Linked DNA regions of Homo sapiens: all the other regions are linked to region 4. Evidence: fine-mapped expression QTL. A gene starts in region 4. Each other region holds a variant in brackets. All regions are shown on one strand. Distances are between the middles of the regions. Region 1 has its middle 22 kb from the start of TBC1D9B. Region 2 overlaps TBC1D9B (TBC1 domain family member 9B). Region 3 overlaps TBC1D9B (TBC1 domain family member 9B). Region 4 holds the start of TBC1D9B (TBC1 domain family member 9B).

Region 1 (4,000 bases), 22 kb before region 4:
GTACTGTAGTTTTGTTGTTTGTTTGTTTTAAGACAGAGTCTGGCTCTGTCGCCCAGGCTGGAGTGCAGTGGCACCATCTCAGCTCACTGCAACCTCCGCCTCCCAGGTTCAAGCAATTCTCCTGCCTCAGCCTCCCGAGTAGCTGGGATTGGGATTACAGGCAGGCACCACCACGCCCGGCTAATTTTTTCTATTTTAGTAGAGACATAGTTTCACTATTTTGGCCAGGCTGGTCCCGAACTCCTGACCTCAGGTGATCCGCCCACCTCGGCCCCCCAAAGTGCTGGGATTACAGGCATGAGCCACTGCGCCTGGCCTGTACTGTAGTTTAAACAGTGATTCATTAAAATCTGTTACTGCCAACAAAAAAGAAAAAAAACAAAAAACAAAAAAGCTACACTTAAAGCACACACACAAAAGAACACAGAAAATGTGCAGAACTGTAATATGTTTTCACAGCTGATTAAAAACAAATACTACCATTGTCCCTAGACTCCCCTTTGATACAATAGGTAAACAAAATGGACTTTGTGTGATTCATTTTGACATTTCTGGCACCCCACACTGTATCGCCATCAGTGTTACAGTCCCAGTTCAGATGTGCGGTACTTCAGGCGGGAAACACTGTCACAGGAATCCAGCTTTGCGTGGACGTCATCAAAATGCCAATCAGTCATGCGGTCACCATGTTTTTATCTTAATAGGTACAAAAAAAGCATTTGCTAAAATTCAACACCTATTCTTGATTTTTTTTTTTTTTTTTTTTTTTTTGAGACAGAGGTTTGGTCTGCAGCCCAGGCTGGAGAGCAGTGGTGCAATCTCAGCTCACTGCAACCTCTGCCTCCTGGGTTCTCATGCCTCAGCCTCCCCAGTAGCTGGAACTACAGTCATGCATCACCACGCCCAGCTACTTTTTTTTGTAATTTTAGTAGAGACCGGGTTTTGTTATGTTTACTGGGCTGGTCTTGAACTCCTGGCCTCAAGTGATCCACCCACCTTGGCCTCCCAAAGTGCTGGGATTACAGGCATGAGCCACCACGCCCAGCCTCCATTCTTGATTTTAAAAGAAAAGAACTTTTAGCAAACTAGGAAAAACAGAGTGCTTCCTTAATCTAATAATGGATATTTTCAAAACTACAGCAAACATTATACTTATCAGTGAAATATTAAAAACTTTTTCCCTAAGATTGTAAATAAGGTTATCTGCTGTCACTGTCTCTTTCAACATTATATTGGCAGTGTTAGCCATTACCATATGGCAAGAAAAAGAAATAAAAGGTGTAAGGATTAGAAAGGAAGAATGAAACTGTCACTCTTCACAGAGAAAACGATTACATGTAGAAAATTCAATATATTCTACAAATCAGCTCTTAAAATGAGTAAGTAAATTTAACAGGATCAATTATATTTCTATAGACTAACAATAAGCAATTTAAAATGAAATTTTTGGCCGGGTGCAGTGGCTCATGCCTGTAATCCTAGCACTCTGGGAGGCCAAGGCGGGCAGATCACGAGGTCAGGAGTTCGAGATCAGCCTGACCAACGTGGTGAAACCCCATCTCTACTAAAAATACAAAAATTAGCCGGGTGTGGTGGCAGATGCCTGTAATCCCAGCTACTCGGGAGGCTGAGGCAGGAGAATCGCTTGAACCCGGGGGGCAGAGGTCGCAGTGAGCCAAGATCACGCCATTGCACTCTAGCCTGGGCGACAAGAGTAAGACTCCATCTCAAAAAATAAATAAAAGATAAATAAATAAAATGAAATTTTCAAAAAAGATAACATTTACAAAAGCATCAAAGAAACATCATACTGAGGAATATATGTAAGAGAAGATACGCAAGGCTTTTATACAGAGAACAATTATGTGTTATCGAGAGAAATTAAAGATGACCTAAGTGAATATAACAGGCTGAAATGAGTGACACGATACTATGGAGGTGTTAGCTCTCCCCAAAGTGACTTATAGACTTACTGTGATTTCGGTCACACCCCAGTGGGTGGGTGTGGGTGTGTGTATTGAAACTGGACCAATTGATCCTAGAATTTTTTTTTTTTGAGACACAGTCTCACTCTGTCACCCAGGCTGGAGTGCAGTGGCACAATCATGGCTCACTGCAGCCTTGACCTCCCAGGCTCAAGTGATCCTCCCACCTCAGCCTCCTGAATAGCTGGGACTACAGGCATGCACCCCCATGCCCAGCTAATTTTTGTATTTTTTGTAGAGATGGGATTTTGCCATGTTGCCCAGGCTGGTCTCAAACTCCTGGGCTCAAGCAGTCCTCCCACCTTGGCCTCCTAAAGTGCTGAGATTACAGGTGTGAGCCACCACGCCCAGCCTGAT[C/G]CTAGAATTTACGTGGAAATGGAAAGAGCTAAGAATAACAAGAACATTTTGAAGAATAATAAAGCAAAAGGACTTAGATACTGGAAATCAAGACTTTTGACAAAGCCACAGTAATTAAGACAGTAAGGTATCGATGCAAGGATGGACAGACAGCAGAACAAAATAGAGTTCTGAAACAGCCGTGCATGTACAGACACTTGGCTCATGACAGAGGTGGCACTGCACAAGCCGTGGGGTAAGAATGGTCTTTTCAAGATGGTGCTGGCTCCACTGAATATTTATAAAGAAAGAAATGAATCTTAATTCCTACTTCACACTATACTGAAAAATTGACTTGAAATGGATGATAGACCTAAATGCAAAAGGTAAAACCATGAAGCTTCTAAAAAATAAGATAAAATGTCATCAAAACCTTCAGATAGGCAAAGACTTCTTCAACTGGACTGAAAAAGCCCTAACCATAAAATAAAAGTTAGATAATTTGTTCCACACTAAAATTAAGAAATTTTGCTCATCAAAATACAGTTTTGGATGGCCAGGTGCGGTGGCTCACGCCTGTAATCCCAGCACTTTGGGAGGCCGAGGCAGGGGGATCACGAGATCAGGAGATTGAGACCATCCTGGCTAACACGGTTGAAACCCCGTCTCTACTAAAAATACAAAAAATTAGCCAGGCGTGGTGGTGGGCGCCTGTAGTCCCAGCTACTCGGGAGGCTGAGGCAGGAGAATGGCATGAACCCAGGAGGCGGGGCTTGCAGTGAGCCGAGATCGCACCACTGCACTCCAGCCTGGGTGATAGAGCGAGACTCCGTCTCAAAAAAAAAAAAAAACAACAACAATTAAAAAAATACAGTTTTGGAAGAAGGTACCTGCAATGCTTAACTCACAAAGGACTCACAGTCACAATAAAGGAGAAGAAGACTGACAACCTGATGGGAAAATGAGCAAAAGAAACAAAGAGACATTTCAGAGCGAACCAGATACACAAACAGCCTGCAAATGTATGAAAAGTGTTCATCCTTTTTGGTCATTTGGGGAATGGACGTTAAAACATAGTGAAATGCCGTGTATACACCTGCTGGAATGCTAAAATGAAAAAAAAAAACAAAATATCCATTATTGGCACAGAAAGAGAGCCACTGGAATTCTCATTTACTGGTGGGAGTCAAAGTTGGCACAGCCACTTTGGAACATGGCCAGTGTCTGCTGACGCTGAAAATATGCACACCTAAGACCCAGCAATCCCACTCCCAGGCATCATCCGAGGGAAAGGCATGTCCATGTGTACAAAAGATAACTCACAGAAACAAGTGTCCCTAACAGCAAGATTCAGAGAGCCTCCAGAGGAAACAATGCAAATGCCTGTCCGTAAAGATTAGACCAATCAATTGTGTGGTGGCCAGACAGTGGAACATGATGCGGCGGTGAAAAGGAAGGAACTGTTGCTATATTCCCTGAGGCGGATGGATGTTGCAACATAAATGTCAGACATTTGTGTGTCAGACAGAGTCTAGACACAAAAGAATATATTCCCTGTTTCCATTTATATAAAATTAAAAATAGACAAAGCTAGGCCGGGCATGGTGGCTCACACTTGTAATCCCAGCACTTTGGGAAGCCAAGGCGGGTGGATCATGAGGTCAGGAGATCGAGACCAT
Region 2 (4,215 bases), 44 kb after region 4:
GTGTTTTATGATAGGGCCCTGGTAACTCCATGCCAGAAAACACCCAACTCTTCCTCTCCCTGCTGTCAGCCCGCAGCCGTCTCACATGACAAAGATTAATCTCTTTCCTCCTAACCTGCAGAGGAGAAGGGGACCAGCTCTCCGGACTATCGGCACTACCTTCGAATGTGGGCCAAGGAGAAAGAGGCTCAGAAGGAGACGATTAAGGATCTTCCCAAGATGAACCAGGTAGGCTCCACTGGAGCCCACAGTAGACATTTCTGGAGAGTTCTGACCAAGACTGGGCCCTAACATCACCGCACCTGCACTGCAGCATCTCCTGGTGGGTGGGAAGGCTCCTCCCTGCCTCTAGAGCCCGTTAGTCCTGGTTGCCAGTCAGCGATGATTCCAGAAAGACAAGAGGCCAGTTGCTCCAGGGCCTTGTATAGGGGCATGTTTCCAGATTGAGTGAGTGTCTGTGAACCAGGAGCCAGAGGCTTGTAGGCTACCTTTGACAAGATATGCGTTCCACACCCTGCACCCTCCCAGCCCTGCCCAGGGCTCTGCACACGCAGGCTCACATGCATCCTCCACACCCGCTCTTCATTCACTGGTCTCGCAGATCAGAAGCATGGTGTCTTGCCAAGGGTCTCAAAGCCAGAAAATGGGAGACCCCAGCTCCAAACTGCAAGCGTTGAGCCAAAGGCAAGTCTGGAGCACCAGCCTGACCATGGCCCTCGGGCCAGACCCACGGTCTAGCTGTGCCCAGTAGGGGACCCTGCAATCTGACCACTCCCCCAGCAGGCCTGGAGGGTGGGCACCACGTGCGATGAGGATTCTTCCCATTCTTGGGCCAGGAGGCCTAGACGTGTGGCTTCAGGACCTAGCACCCACCCTCCCCAGCACCCCCCTCCCCAGGATCCCCCTCCCCAGCTGACCCAGGCTGTATTTTCCTCACCATCACCTTCTAAAGAGCTTCATTCAAGGGCTGAGTTGAGGCTGCTTCTGATTAAAACCAAAGGTGATTCTAAAACACAACGAAGTCCTTGTACTGACTGGATTTAGAGTCGTGGTAGAAATCCATCTCCCTGTGCCAACAGAACGGACCTAGAAACAGGGAGGCCCCAGGTCAGACCAGCATGCTCTGAGTGCCAAGAGAAAGGCAGCTGGAGGGGAAAGCCTTTTGAAGAGCTGTGTGGCCTCTCTGAGCCTGTGTCCTGATCTGTGAGATGGGACTGATGAGGCTCATGGAGATGATTAGCAAGACGGCAGCCAACATCCTTAGGCTGGTGCTTGTCATCAGTTTGGCTAATATGGACCCCGTCTGACTGGTCTTTTACCATCTCCCTGTTCTTCTGTTTTTCTCCCTAAAAGGAGCAGTTCATTGAGCTGTGCAAGACGCTTTACAACATGTTCAGTGAAGACCCCATGGAGCAGGACCTGTACCACGCCATCGCCACCGTGGCCAGCCTCCTGCTCCGCATCGGAGAGGTGGGGAAGAAGTTCTCAGCCCGCACAGGCAGGAAGCCCAGGGACTGTGCCACTGAGGAGGACGAGCCACCAGCACCCGAACTGCATCAGGACGCAGCCAGGGAGCTTCAGCCCCCAGCTGCAGGAGACCCCCAAGCCAAAGCAGGCGGAGACACACACCTCGGAA[A/C]AGCCCCACAGGAGAGCCAGGTGGTGGTGGAGGGGGGCAGCGGCGAGGGACAGGGCTCACCCTCCCAGCTGCTGTCTGACGATGAAACCAAAGACGACATGTCCATGTCCTCCTACTCGGTGGTCAGCACGGGCTCCCTGCAATGTGAAGACCTTGCAGACGACACGGTGCTGGTGGGCGGGGAGGCCTGCAGCCCCACAGCGCGCATCGGCGGCACCGTCGACACCGACTGGTGCATCTCCTTTGAGCAGATCCTGGCCTCCATCCTGACGGAGTCCGTGCTGGTGAACTTCTTTGAGAAGAGAGTGGACATTGGACTCAAGATCAAGGACCAAAAGAAAGTGGAGAGACAGTTCAGCACCGCCAGTGACCATGAGCAGCCTGGAGTTTCCGGCTGATGCCTGCAGCTGTGAGGCCTGGCCCAAGGTGTCATCAGTGGGGCTGGCCTCATCTCCTCCTGCCTTTCCTCCCTTATCAGTTTCTCTTTAAAGGTGTGCCCCTCCTGCTCTCCCAGGAGCAGTGAGTTGTGAGTGGAAAGAAGGCTGGTGCAGACCCAGCTGCCTTAGACAGATTCCCTGGGCCTGCATCTCCTGGCGCCGGCTGCTTCTGGGCCCAGGAAGAGGCTGTGGCTCCCACCTTCCTTACACCTGGTGGGAGCCCGCCTCGCACCAGCTGCACCTGCCTAGCATTACAGGCTCTCAGATCTGCCCTTGCTTGCCTCATACCTCTGTGCTCCACACTGCGGCCAGGCCAGCTGAGTCCCTCCATCCGTGGATGCTTTCCTGCAGCTATGTGGTATGGGGGTCATTCCTGCCTCTTGGCACCAGGTTGGGGGGCATGTGCTTGTTGGGCACCAAAGTGATGGAACCCTCAGGTGCTCTCCGGGAGCCTGAACCTCCTGACTGAGGAACATGGGCAGAACATGTTTATTGCACAGAGTGGGCGCTGCGCACAGGCGTGGCTGTACACGTGCTCTCAGCTCATCATCCTTTCCAGTAACTTTAAAAAAACATCCCTCAGGTCCTGATATATTTCCTTGGATTCATTTCACTTGGCTAGAAATTACACTGTGCTCAATGCCTTAATAAATCCCTGAAAGAAATAAAAACCACTGTGTGCAATGCCTTGCTGTGGCCCCCAACCACTGCTTAGGCCTCCCAACTTCTCCCCAGGCCAAGTATGGGGCCCTGGCTGTGTTCTGGAAGTTCAAGACACTTAGTCCTCCACAGTGGGTGGAAGAGTGCAAGGTCTGCCAGGTCAGATGGAGACGCAGAACCTGCTGGTGCAAGCTGGGCAGGTCCTGACCAACCTGCATCAGGGGATGCCCTGAGCTCCACAGGTCTTCATGGGCAGGGGTTGTGGGTCCTGGTGAAGGAAGTGCATCCTCAGGCCTGGGCTGTAGCAAGCTGTCTGCCCTTGGGTTCAAGAACCAGACTGTGGAGCCAAAGGTGACCGCAGGGGGCCCCAGGGCTGGAGCCACAAGGATACCCTCACTTTGCATGAGGAGCTGAAACTGACCAGTGTCCAGTGTTAGCCCCCACATGGGGCTGCTCTTGCTTCTACTAAAAGATACAGCAGTTACCCCCTTATCCACAGGGGATACAGTGGATATCTAAAACCAGACCCCCAGTGGATGTCTAAAACCACAGATAATAACAAACCTTATACATACTGTTTTTTCCTATGCATACATACCTGTGATTAAGTTTATGAATTAGGCACCTTAAGAGATTGACAACAATAACTAATAATAAAATGTAACGGTTATACTGTAATGAAAGTTGTAAATGTGGTCTGTCTCACAATATCTTCTTGTACTGTACTCATCTCTTTTCCAGGTGGCTGTTGACTCTGGGTAACTAAAGCTGCAGAAGGTGAAACTCAGGTACTATTGTATATCTCTGTGGCTGCTGTTTTTGTTTTAATTAAGTAGCTTTGTTTTTTTGTTTTTTTGTTTTTTTGTTTTTTGAGACCAAGTCTTGCTCTGTTGCCCAGCATGGAGTGCAGTGGCGTGATCTCAGCTCACTGCAACCTCTGCCTCCTGGGTTCAAGCAATTCTTCTGCCTCAGCCTCCCAAGCAGCTGGGACTACAGGCGTGCACCACCACGCCCAGCTAATTTTTCTATTTTTACTAGAGATGGGGTTTCACCATATTGGCCAGGCTGGTCTCAAACTCCTGACCTCGTGATCCACCCGCCTCGGCCTCCCAACATGCTGGGATTACAGGCGTGAGCCACCATGCCCGGTCTGCTTGTTTGTTTGTTTTAGAGACAGACTGGAGTGCTGTGGCATGACCATAGCTCATGGCAGCCTCAAACTCTTGGCCTGAAGTAATCCTCCTGCCCCAGCCTCCCTAGTAGCTGGGACTACAGGCATGAACCAGCATGCCTGGCTTCAATTTCCTTTCTAGTATTTACACAAAGTACCATAAAATAATTTCAAATGATTTATACCAAAAAGACCATTGTTGGCCTTAATATAATTAAGATATAATAACCCCACATATTTGGCAATTTTAAGTCTTACACTGATTATATTCAATTAGATTTGAATAACTTGGAATTTGGATAAATGGCTTT
Region 3 (4,215 bases), 24 kb after region 4:
GGCCCCACACTTCCTGAAAGCTGAGTAAGCACCACTCACGGCCCCTCCCAGGCACTCGGCTTCATGCATCCAAACACATTTTATTGCATTCCTGTTAGGTGCCAGCTGCTATTCTAGGCCCCAGGAGTAGAACAGTGAACACATCGGACAGAGTGCCTGTTCACTTAGAGCTGTATTCCAGTGAGGGAGGCAGTAAGCAAATAAACATACAATATGTCAGGCAGTGATAAGGGCTGTGGGTAGAAATAAAGCAGGATGAGGGGATCAGGAGTGCCAGGGGAAAGAAGGGGGCTCCATTTTCTCTCTGTTGCTCATGGGCAACCTCTCTGATCAGGCAGCACTGGAGGAGAAACTCGAAAGAAGCAGGGGAACTAGCCATAGCCTGTCTGGGGCAGGGTGTTGGAGGCAGAGAGCACAGCAAGCTGGGAGACAGGATTGGATGTGGCACGGGCTTCTGGGACCAGGGCTTAGGAGACTGACCAGGTGTAGGAGGTGAGACCAGAGAGGTGGCAGAAGGCCAAGTCACCGAAAGCCCGTAGGCCCTGTGAGTGCTGCAGCTTTGACTTCAGGTGAGAGGGGAAGCCAGTGAAGAGTCATGACCAGAGGAGGGCACGACCTGTTTACGTGTTAATGGGGTTACTGTGGCCGTCCATGTTGACAGTGGATTAGAGGTGCCCCGTCTAGTACAGCAGCCACGTGTGGCCATGGAGCACTGGAAATCCAGCGGGTGCCAATGGAAATGTGCTGTGAGTGTTCAGATCACTGTACACGGGTTTTGGAGACTTCGTATGAAAAGAAAAACGTAAAATACCTCCATCTTTTTTTTTTTGGGGGGGGGACAGAGTCTTGCTCTGTCACCTAGGCTGGAGTGCAGTGGGGCAGTCTTGGCTCACTGCATCCTCTGCCTCCCAGGTTCAAGTGATTCTCCTGCCTCAGCCTCCCGAGTAGCTGGGATTACAGGCGTCCACCACCACGCCCGGCTTATTTTGTATTTTTAGTAGAGACGGGTTTTTGCCATGTTGGCCAGTCTGGTCTTGAACTCCTGACCTCAGGCGATCCACCTGCCTCAGCCTCCCAAAGTGCTGGGATTACAGGGGTGAGCCACCGTGCCTGGCCACTCCATCATTTTTTAATTGATTCCTGTTGAAATGCGAGTATTTTGGATATATTGGATTAAGTCAAATATATTGTTAAAATTAATCTCAATAATTTACTTTAGGACTTTACAATGTGGCTACTAGAAAATTTACAATTACATTTGTGGCTCTCATCATCTCTCTTGGGCAGTGCTGGACTAGAGAGTGGCAAGAATAGAAGCAAGGAGGCCGGCTGGAGCCCATCACAGAAGCAGGGGCACAAGATGATGGAGTCGAGCATCAAGGGTAGGAACAGTGTAGGTGTAAGAAGGGGTCAGATTCAGGAGACGCTATTGTGATAAAATACACATAACAACATTTACCATTAAGTACATTGACATTGCTATGCCATCACCACCATCCATCCACAGAACTTTTTCAGTTTTGCAAAACTGAAACTCTGAACCCATTAAACAGTAACTCCTCAGCCCCCACTCCCCCAGCCCCTGGCAAGCACCATTCTACCTTTTTGACTTGAATTGAACTATTCTAGGTAATGCACATAAGTGGAAGCATATAGTATTTTCCCTTTTGTGCCTGGCTTATTTCATTCAGCGTGATGTCCTCCAGGTTCATCCCTGTTGTAGCGTGCTCAAGATTTCTTTTTTAAGGCTGAATCATATGCCATTGTATGGATAAGCCACGTTTTGTTCACTGTTGAAACTTGGACTGCTTCCACCTCATGGCTATTATGAGTAACACTGCTGTGAACATGGGTGTACAGATGTCTGTTTGAATCTTTACTTTCAGTTCTTTTGGGGACATACCCTGGAGTGGAATTGCTGGATTGTATAGCAGTTCTATTTTTAATATTTCAAGGAACCTCCGTGCTATGCTCTATCCACCAACTGTGCACCACAGTTGGAGGCCAGACCACCAACTGTGGCATGACTCTGTGCAGACACAGAGCCAGTAGCTGTGCTGAGGCAATGGCGGGAAGGAAGAGGGGCTCTGATAGTCCTAAGAGCCAAGGAATCCAGAAGTCACCAGAATACCCCTCACAAGAGACTACTCAGCAAATGGAAACCTCAACAAGTGAATCTGAGAGACAGCCAGTGAAATTGGGAGCCGATTTCTCAGGCTCCAGTTTATAGAGGAGGCTTTTTTTT[A/TA]TTAATGGAAGCACAAAATCCTGCTTTATTTCTACCCACAGCCTTATCGCTGCCTGACGTATTATACGGCTGAGGAAAGATCAAGAATGTGAGGGAAACCCATGCCCTTAACAAAAACTTCTCTTCTGAAAGACAAGAGCTCACCCCAAGAAAAAAAGGACTGGGATTGAACAGAGCAGGAACACTTGGGGTAAAGGAGAAAAGCTTTAGATACAAGAAAGAGGTGGCCAATCCCAGAAAGTACAGGAGCAAGGACTACACAGACCGACCACAGCAGGGGAAAGGCCTCTCCAGCTGTGGAGTTCAGAAAGCTACTCTGACCCACAACTGCCCGTACGTAGAACATCCTGCTGAAAGAACAGGAAAAGATGCTGATCACACCCTGTACAAAGATATTGCGGGGAGAAAGTGAACCAGATAACCTCCCACAGATAATGAAAGCACACCAGAAAAACATTCCTCCAGGCAGATGAAAACTGTGTCCTGATGTTTCTGAGTGATCTCAAAGGAATTAGAAAAACGACAGAAACTACTAAAGAATGGTATAAATTAAAAATGTTTAAAAAGCTCAGGTTAAAAGTGACTAGTCAACAGAAAAATATGAAGAGAGTTGACAGGACTCAGGAGGAAATAAGAAAAAAAAAACCAGATATTTCTGAAATGAAAATCAGGAACACAAGAATGAAAATACATTAAGGTAAATAAGGAAGAGATAGGAGAAAAATGGAGTCAGAGGAGACTCAAACAAATAGAGAAGAAGTTGTCCAGAGAAGGGATAAAGAAGTTAGGCAAAGAAGATCAAACTTACGTATAATCGTAGTGCCATCCCACACCCTTCCCAGAAAAAAGCAGTGGAATAACAGATAATAGAAACTGTGATTCAGGAAAACTGATAAAATAAGCTTGAACTTGTATAGTGGAAGGACACATTGAATGTCTAGAAAAATCAACACAAAATAGTCGATATTGACATAAAATCTCATAAAACTGTTCAATTTTAAAGATTAAAAAATTATTCCAGGCTGGGCACAGTGGCTCACACCTGTAATCCCAGCACTTTGGGAGGCTGAAGCAGGCAGATCACTTGAGGCCAGAAGTTCAAAACCAGCCTGGCCAACATGGTGAAACTCTGTCTCTACTAAAAATACAAAACTAAGCTAGGTATAGTGGCACATGCCTGGAATCACAGCTACTTGGGAGGCTGAGGCACAAGAATCACTTGAACCCAGGAGGTGGGAGAAGGAGGTTGCAATGGGCCACGATCCTGAGAGATTCCTCCTCAAGAGAGGTATCAGACTTTGTGATACAGTAACAACATTTTAGAGTAACTTTTTGTTGGGGGTTGGGGAGGGTGTCTCCTGGAGTGCAGTGGCACAATCTCGGCTCACTGCAACCTCTGCCTCCCAGGTTCAAGCAGTCTTGTGCCTCAGGCCCGTGAGTAGCTGGGACTACGTGTATGTGCCACCATGCCTGGCTAATTTTTGTATTTTTTGTAGAGATGGGGTTGAGATTTCACCATGTTGGCCAGACTGATCTCGAACTCCTGACCTAGGGTGATCCACCTGCCTCAGCCTCCCAGAGTGCTGAGATTATACAGAGTAACATTTTTAAGATATACAATAAAAGAAGCTGTGACCCAGGGATTTTATACCCAGCCAAACTGACGTTCAGGTATAAAGACCATAGGCTGTAAAGAACATGCAGAGGAGTTCAGGGGCTCTCTCAGCTTCTGTGGAGTCTGCTGGAGAACAGACTCCAGATAACCAAGGAGTGATGGAAGCAGCTTGGGCCTAACGACTGGTGGTAGCATTGATTATATTTAGCTGTGGAATTAAGGTTAGATAGTAGGAATAGAGGTGACAGTATATAAATGTTATAATCTCTGATGATGGAGACATAGTACAATCAAAACCTGAGGTTAGGGAGGTATATGAGGCTGGGCTTGATGGCTCATGCCTGTAATCCCAACA
Region 4 (4,215 bases):
GAAAGAAGACAGACACAAAAGACCACATATTGTAAGGTTCCATTTATATGAAGAAATGGCTAGAATGGGAAAAATGTATAGAGACAAAATAGATTGATGGTTGCCAGGGCAAAGCCGGGGGGAAGTGGGGAATGGCAGCTAATGGGTAAGGGGTTTCTTTTGACTTGATAAAAATGTTCTGGAATTAGTGATGATGGATGCCCAGCCTAGTGAATATACTAAAAACCACTACGTTTTGCACTTTAAAAGAGTGAACGTTACGGAATGTGACTTATATCTCAGAAAATCAAAAAGAAGTAAGCTTAGCACGCACATACTAAGTGATCGATAAATGTTTGTTCTTTTTCTTCTTATAAAAAACCATTCTCGAGGAGTGGTCTCCAGGTCAGCAGCATCAACATCACCTAGGAACGAGTTAGCAGTGCAAACACCCTGGGAGGGAGGGGGCAGCAACCTGTGTGGCTGTTTTTTGTTTTGTTTTGTTTTCAGATGGAGTCTTGCTATATTGCCCTGGCCGATTTTGAACTCCTGGCCTCAAGTGATCCTACCACCTCAGCCTCCCAAGTGGCTGGGACTACAGCAGCCTGTTTGAATCAGCCTTCCAGGTGATCCTAATGTATACCCAATTTGAGAACCACTGGGATTAAGGAACAAGACGACTCTTTACCTCCTCTCAGGGTGTTAAAAAGTGCAGTTCTTCCAAATTCTTTCCCTCTAGAGAGCACAATGACAATATTAGTTCAGACTTCCAAGGTGTTGAAGAAAGCCCGCCTCTGCATCTTGAAAGCTGATTCCTATATCCAGCAACATTGAAGAAGACTGCAGATCACTCTGGGTGTCAACTGCATGTACCTACATCCATCGCACCAAGATTCTTGAGTGCCAATCACAGAAACCCACCTGGAAGTCAGGTCCAGCTCCAAGGATGGTTTAACTGCCCCCTTCCCTTTGCCCTCTAGCCAGACCCTGGTGAGGGTTCCAGCCAGCAGGGTGACCCCACATCCCAGTCGACCCCGGACAGGCCCCAGGCCCGTTGTCCCAGGTGGAGTTGACAGCCCCCTCATGCAGAAGGCTGTGTGTGGACTGGCGCTGCCCCTGCAGGCCAACACTGGGAGACCAGGGACCCGCATTCGCCTGCAGCCAGCCTCACACTTGCGCAGAAGCCGCCACTGGGCCCAGGGCCAGTCCAGACCCCATCCCCAGGGCCGGCCAGCCTCTGTGACCCGTCTGTCAGGGGAGGGGCAGCACTGATTTCCAAGGATGCAGCCCGTATCAGGGCCTCCTGGCACCTGCCCTGCGCTGGAAGATTCTTCTAGTCTCCCGGCCCCAGTGTCAGAATTCTGAGAACTGGCCGGGCGCGATGGTTCACTCCTGTAATCCCAGGACTTGGGAGGCCAATGTAGGCGGATCACCCGAGGTCAGGAGTTCGAGACCAGCCTGGCCAACATGGTGAAACCCCGTCTCTACTAAAAATACAAAAAAATTAGCCGGGCGTGTTGGCGGGAGCCTGTAATCCCAGCTAAAGAGGCTGGGGCAGGAGAATCACTTGAACCCGGGAGGCAGAGGTTGCAGTGAGCTGAGATTGCGCCACTGCACTCCAGCCTGGGCGACACAGCAAGACTCTGTCGAAAAAAAAAAAAGAAAAGAAAGCTGAGAATTAGGAGGAACTGCAAACCCTTTCCAGGCGCCCTTTGCAGTGCTAACACGCCCCGGGTTGCACGCGCAACCAGCCAAAAGCCGCCAAACTCTGCTTCTTGACATCCTTCTCTCACACTGCACAGCTTTCAAAACGCCAGAAGCCCTGCTCTGCACAGCGGCTCCCCTGTCTGCGGACTGGGCCGTTCCGTTCTGGACCCAGGCCGGAGGCCGTGGGCTGCACCGCTCCAGGAGGCCAGGCTGGCGCGCGCCCGAGGCCGGGGCTGAGGGGGCGGCGCGGAACTCGGGCCGCGTGCGGGAGCGCCACACGCCCGCCAGGGGGCGCCGCCCGCCCGGCCCCGCCCCGCCCCGGCCCGCTCCGCACGCTCCGCTCCGCACGCTCCGCTCCGGGACGCCGACGGCGGCGGGCGCTTCCGTCTCGCGGGCCTCGGCCCGGTGCGAGCGGCTCCGCGATGTGGCTGAGCCCGGAGGAGGTGCTGGTGGCCAATGCGCTGTGGGTGACGGAGCGGGCCAACCCCTTCTTCGTGCTGCAGCGACGCCGGGGCCACGGCAGGGGCGGCGGCCTTACGGGTGAGAGGCGCGCGGGCGGCCGGGCCTGTGGGCGCCGCGGCTGGGCTGGCGGCGGGGCTGGCGGCGGGCGGCGGGCGGGTCCGGTTCCGGCCCGGCCTCGGCGCGTCGCGGCGGACACGCACGCCAGCGCGCGGCGGGGCGGGGGCGCGAGGCCAGGACCCGGGAGCCGGGCGCGGAGGGGCCGGGGCGGGGAGGCGAGGGGCTGGCGGGAGGCGAATGCGCCCTCGGCGGGCTCTCCTCAGGTCGGCTTGGGGCGGCCAAGTGGAGACCGGCGGCGGCTTCTGCCCGGATTCGGCGCCCGCGAGCCCCGGGGGCCGTGCAGCTTCCCGGGATCTCACCGCCGAAAGTTGGCGAGACCGCCCTGTCCTCATCCTCCACCTCAGTTTCCCCAGGTGCCTCTAAGGGGCCAGGTGACGCCAGCGCACGTTTTCTTTTGCCCTCTTCTTCGTGCCCATCTCACCAAAGTATCGCCCTTTTAGCAAGATCAGAGGTCCCTGGAGCTGGCCGCACCCCCATTCCCCCAGCTTCTCCTCCCCCACCTTTCCTGCTCCTGGCTGCTCTCAGAGCTGCGCACCCAAGGCTGTGGGTAGCGGCACAGGGTGTTCCTGCAAGCTCGCCAAGGTGGCCCTTTGTGGGCCCGGGTGCCACCATCACACAGGATGAAGCTGGACAGGCACCCTTGGAGTCGTGCGGCCTGTGGGATCCAGGGGAGGCCCACAGGCCACTCCCTCCGCAGGTGGTGTCCGGGGCCCCTCATGCTCCAGGGCCTGCGCCCAGCACTGCAGGAGCCCGGCTGGCTCGGGCTCAGTGCCTGTGCTCTTCGGGGCACCGACTGTTGCCCTACAGGATTGCGGTCCCAGTGTTGCCAGGTCGTCCAGTTTATCAAGAGCATTTTCTGTGAATCATCCTGATTTTCAGTGTGAGCAGCTAATAGCCAGATGCAGACGGAGGCTTCTCCTGGGCCACGTTTCTTCATGTGGAAGAGACTGTTCTGTTCCCAGAAACACTCAGTGTTCCCTTCAGCTTCGGGTTCCCTCCCAGTGGGCTTCAAGGATCTCGGGCTCCTGTTCTGGACCCGCCTCCTAGATCCAGCTGTTCAGTCGGCAGCCCCTGTGGCTAACCTCGAAGCTACTGCAAGCCCGATGAAGAAAGCGAGGGACCGGCACCTTTTCTTCCGCCAGCGCGCCAGGGTGTCATCAGCGCGCCAGTGTGTCATATTCGCTGGTGTACTTGAAACACTTGTGCTGTGCTCGGCAGGCTTATGTGGGTCGTCTCATTGAACGGGCGGGTGCAGGTGCAGCCCGGTCTCTGTACACCTCCTTCCTGCGGGCTCTTCTCCTTTCCACCTCACTCTCCGTGTCCCCTGGGACCGAGCTCCCAGGGTCCCCCCAAGGGAACCCTTCTTTGAACCCTCTCCCAATCTCTCCCCACTGCTAGGTTTGGTGTGTCCTGCTGTGCCCTCTGACAGGGCCTTCCCTGTGCCATCATGGGCATCGTGGCCTCCTGAGTACTGTCCTCCCTGAAGAGGAGCAGACAGGGATGTGGTTTTATCCAAGCCATCTATTAAAAACATGCCAACCTAGACTTTTCATTAAAGAATCTGAATAGCTAGCTTGGCCAACATGGCAAAACCCCGTCTCTACTAAAAATATAAAATTTATCCAGGCATGGTGGCACGCGCCTGTTATCCCAGCTACTCGGGAGGCTGAGGCACGAGAATCGCTTGAACCCAGGAGGTCAAGGTTGCAGTGAGCCGAGATGGCGCCATTGCACTCCACCTTGGGCGACAGAGCGAGACTATCTCAAAAAAGTATTAATGGACTATGAAACAAAAGTGTTAAAGTTGAATAACAGCAATAAAAATTGTTCTGACATCAACAGGAAAAATGGTAACAAAATATTTTCAGATCATGCCAAAAGCAGCACTTCGTTAAAAGGAAGAAAAAATTTCAAGTAAAAACAATAAACAGGTTTTTAGATTGCTCGATA

Evidence for each region. PIP is the estimated chance that this variant, and not a neighbour inherited with it, causes the effect.
Region 1: its variant is the best candidate, but not a certain one, in a credible set for the expression of TBC1D9B in monocytes (Quach 2016, PIP 0.51).
Region 2: its variant is the best candidate, but not a certain one, in a credible set for the expression of TBC1D9B in T cells (TOPMed, PIP 0.86).
Region 3: its variant is the best candidate, but not a certain one, in a credible set for the expression of TBC1D9B in whole blood (TOPMed, PIP 0.62).

The regions. Positions count from the first base shown.
Region 1 is chr5:179,927,804-179,931,803 of GRCh38, reverse strand. It overlaps a transcript of RNF130 not described here. Among named protein-coding and RNA genes, the nearest start is that of TBC1D9B, 22 kb to the right of the region's middle. The variant C/G (reference allele first, on the strand shown) is at 2,343.
Region 2 is chr5:179,861,267-179,865,481 of GRCh38, reverse strand. TBC1D9B (TBC1 domain family member 9B) reads left to right here. Exons shown (of 21, transcript NM_015043.4): 20 at 122-228; 21 at 1,354-3,411. The coding sequence ends at 2,034. It overlaps MRNIP-DT (MRNIP divergent transcript), which reads right to left. Exons shown (of 2, transcript NR_134283.1): 2 at 4,199-4,215. Among named protein-coding and RNA genes, the nearest start is that of MRNIP-DT, 4.4 kb to the right of the region's middle. The variant A/C (reference allele first, on the strand shown) is at 1,637.
Region 3 is chr5:179,882,209-179,886,423 of GRCh38, reverse strand. All of the region lies in intron 7 of TBC1D9B (TBC1 domain family member 9B), which reads left to right. Among named protein-coding and RNA genes, the nearest start is that of TBC1D9B, 24 kb to the left of the region's middle. The variant A/TA (reference allele first, on the strand shown) is at 2,246.
Region 4 is chr5:179,905,715-179,909,929 of GRCh38, reverse strand. It overlaps TBC1D9B (TBC1 domain family member 9B), which reads left to right and starts at 2,033. Exons shown (of 21, transcript NM_015043.4): 1 at 2,033-2,226. The coding sequence starts at 2,109. RefSeq lists silencers at 1,882-2,041, 2,112-2,171, 2,182-2,321, 2,372-2,421 and an enhancer at 2,302-3,079.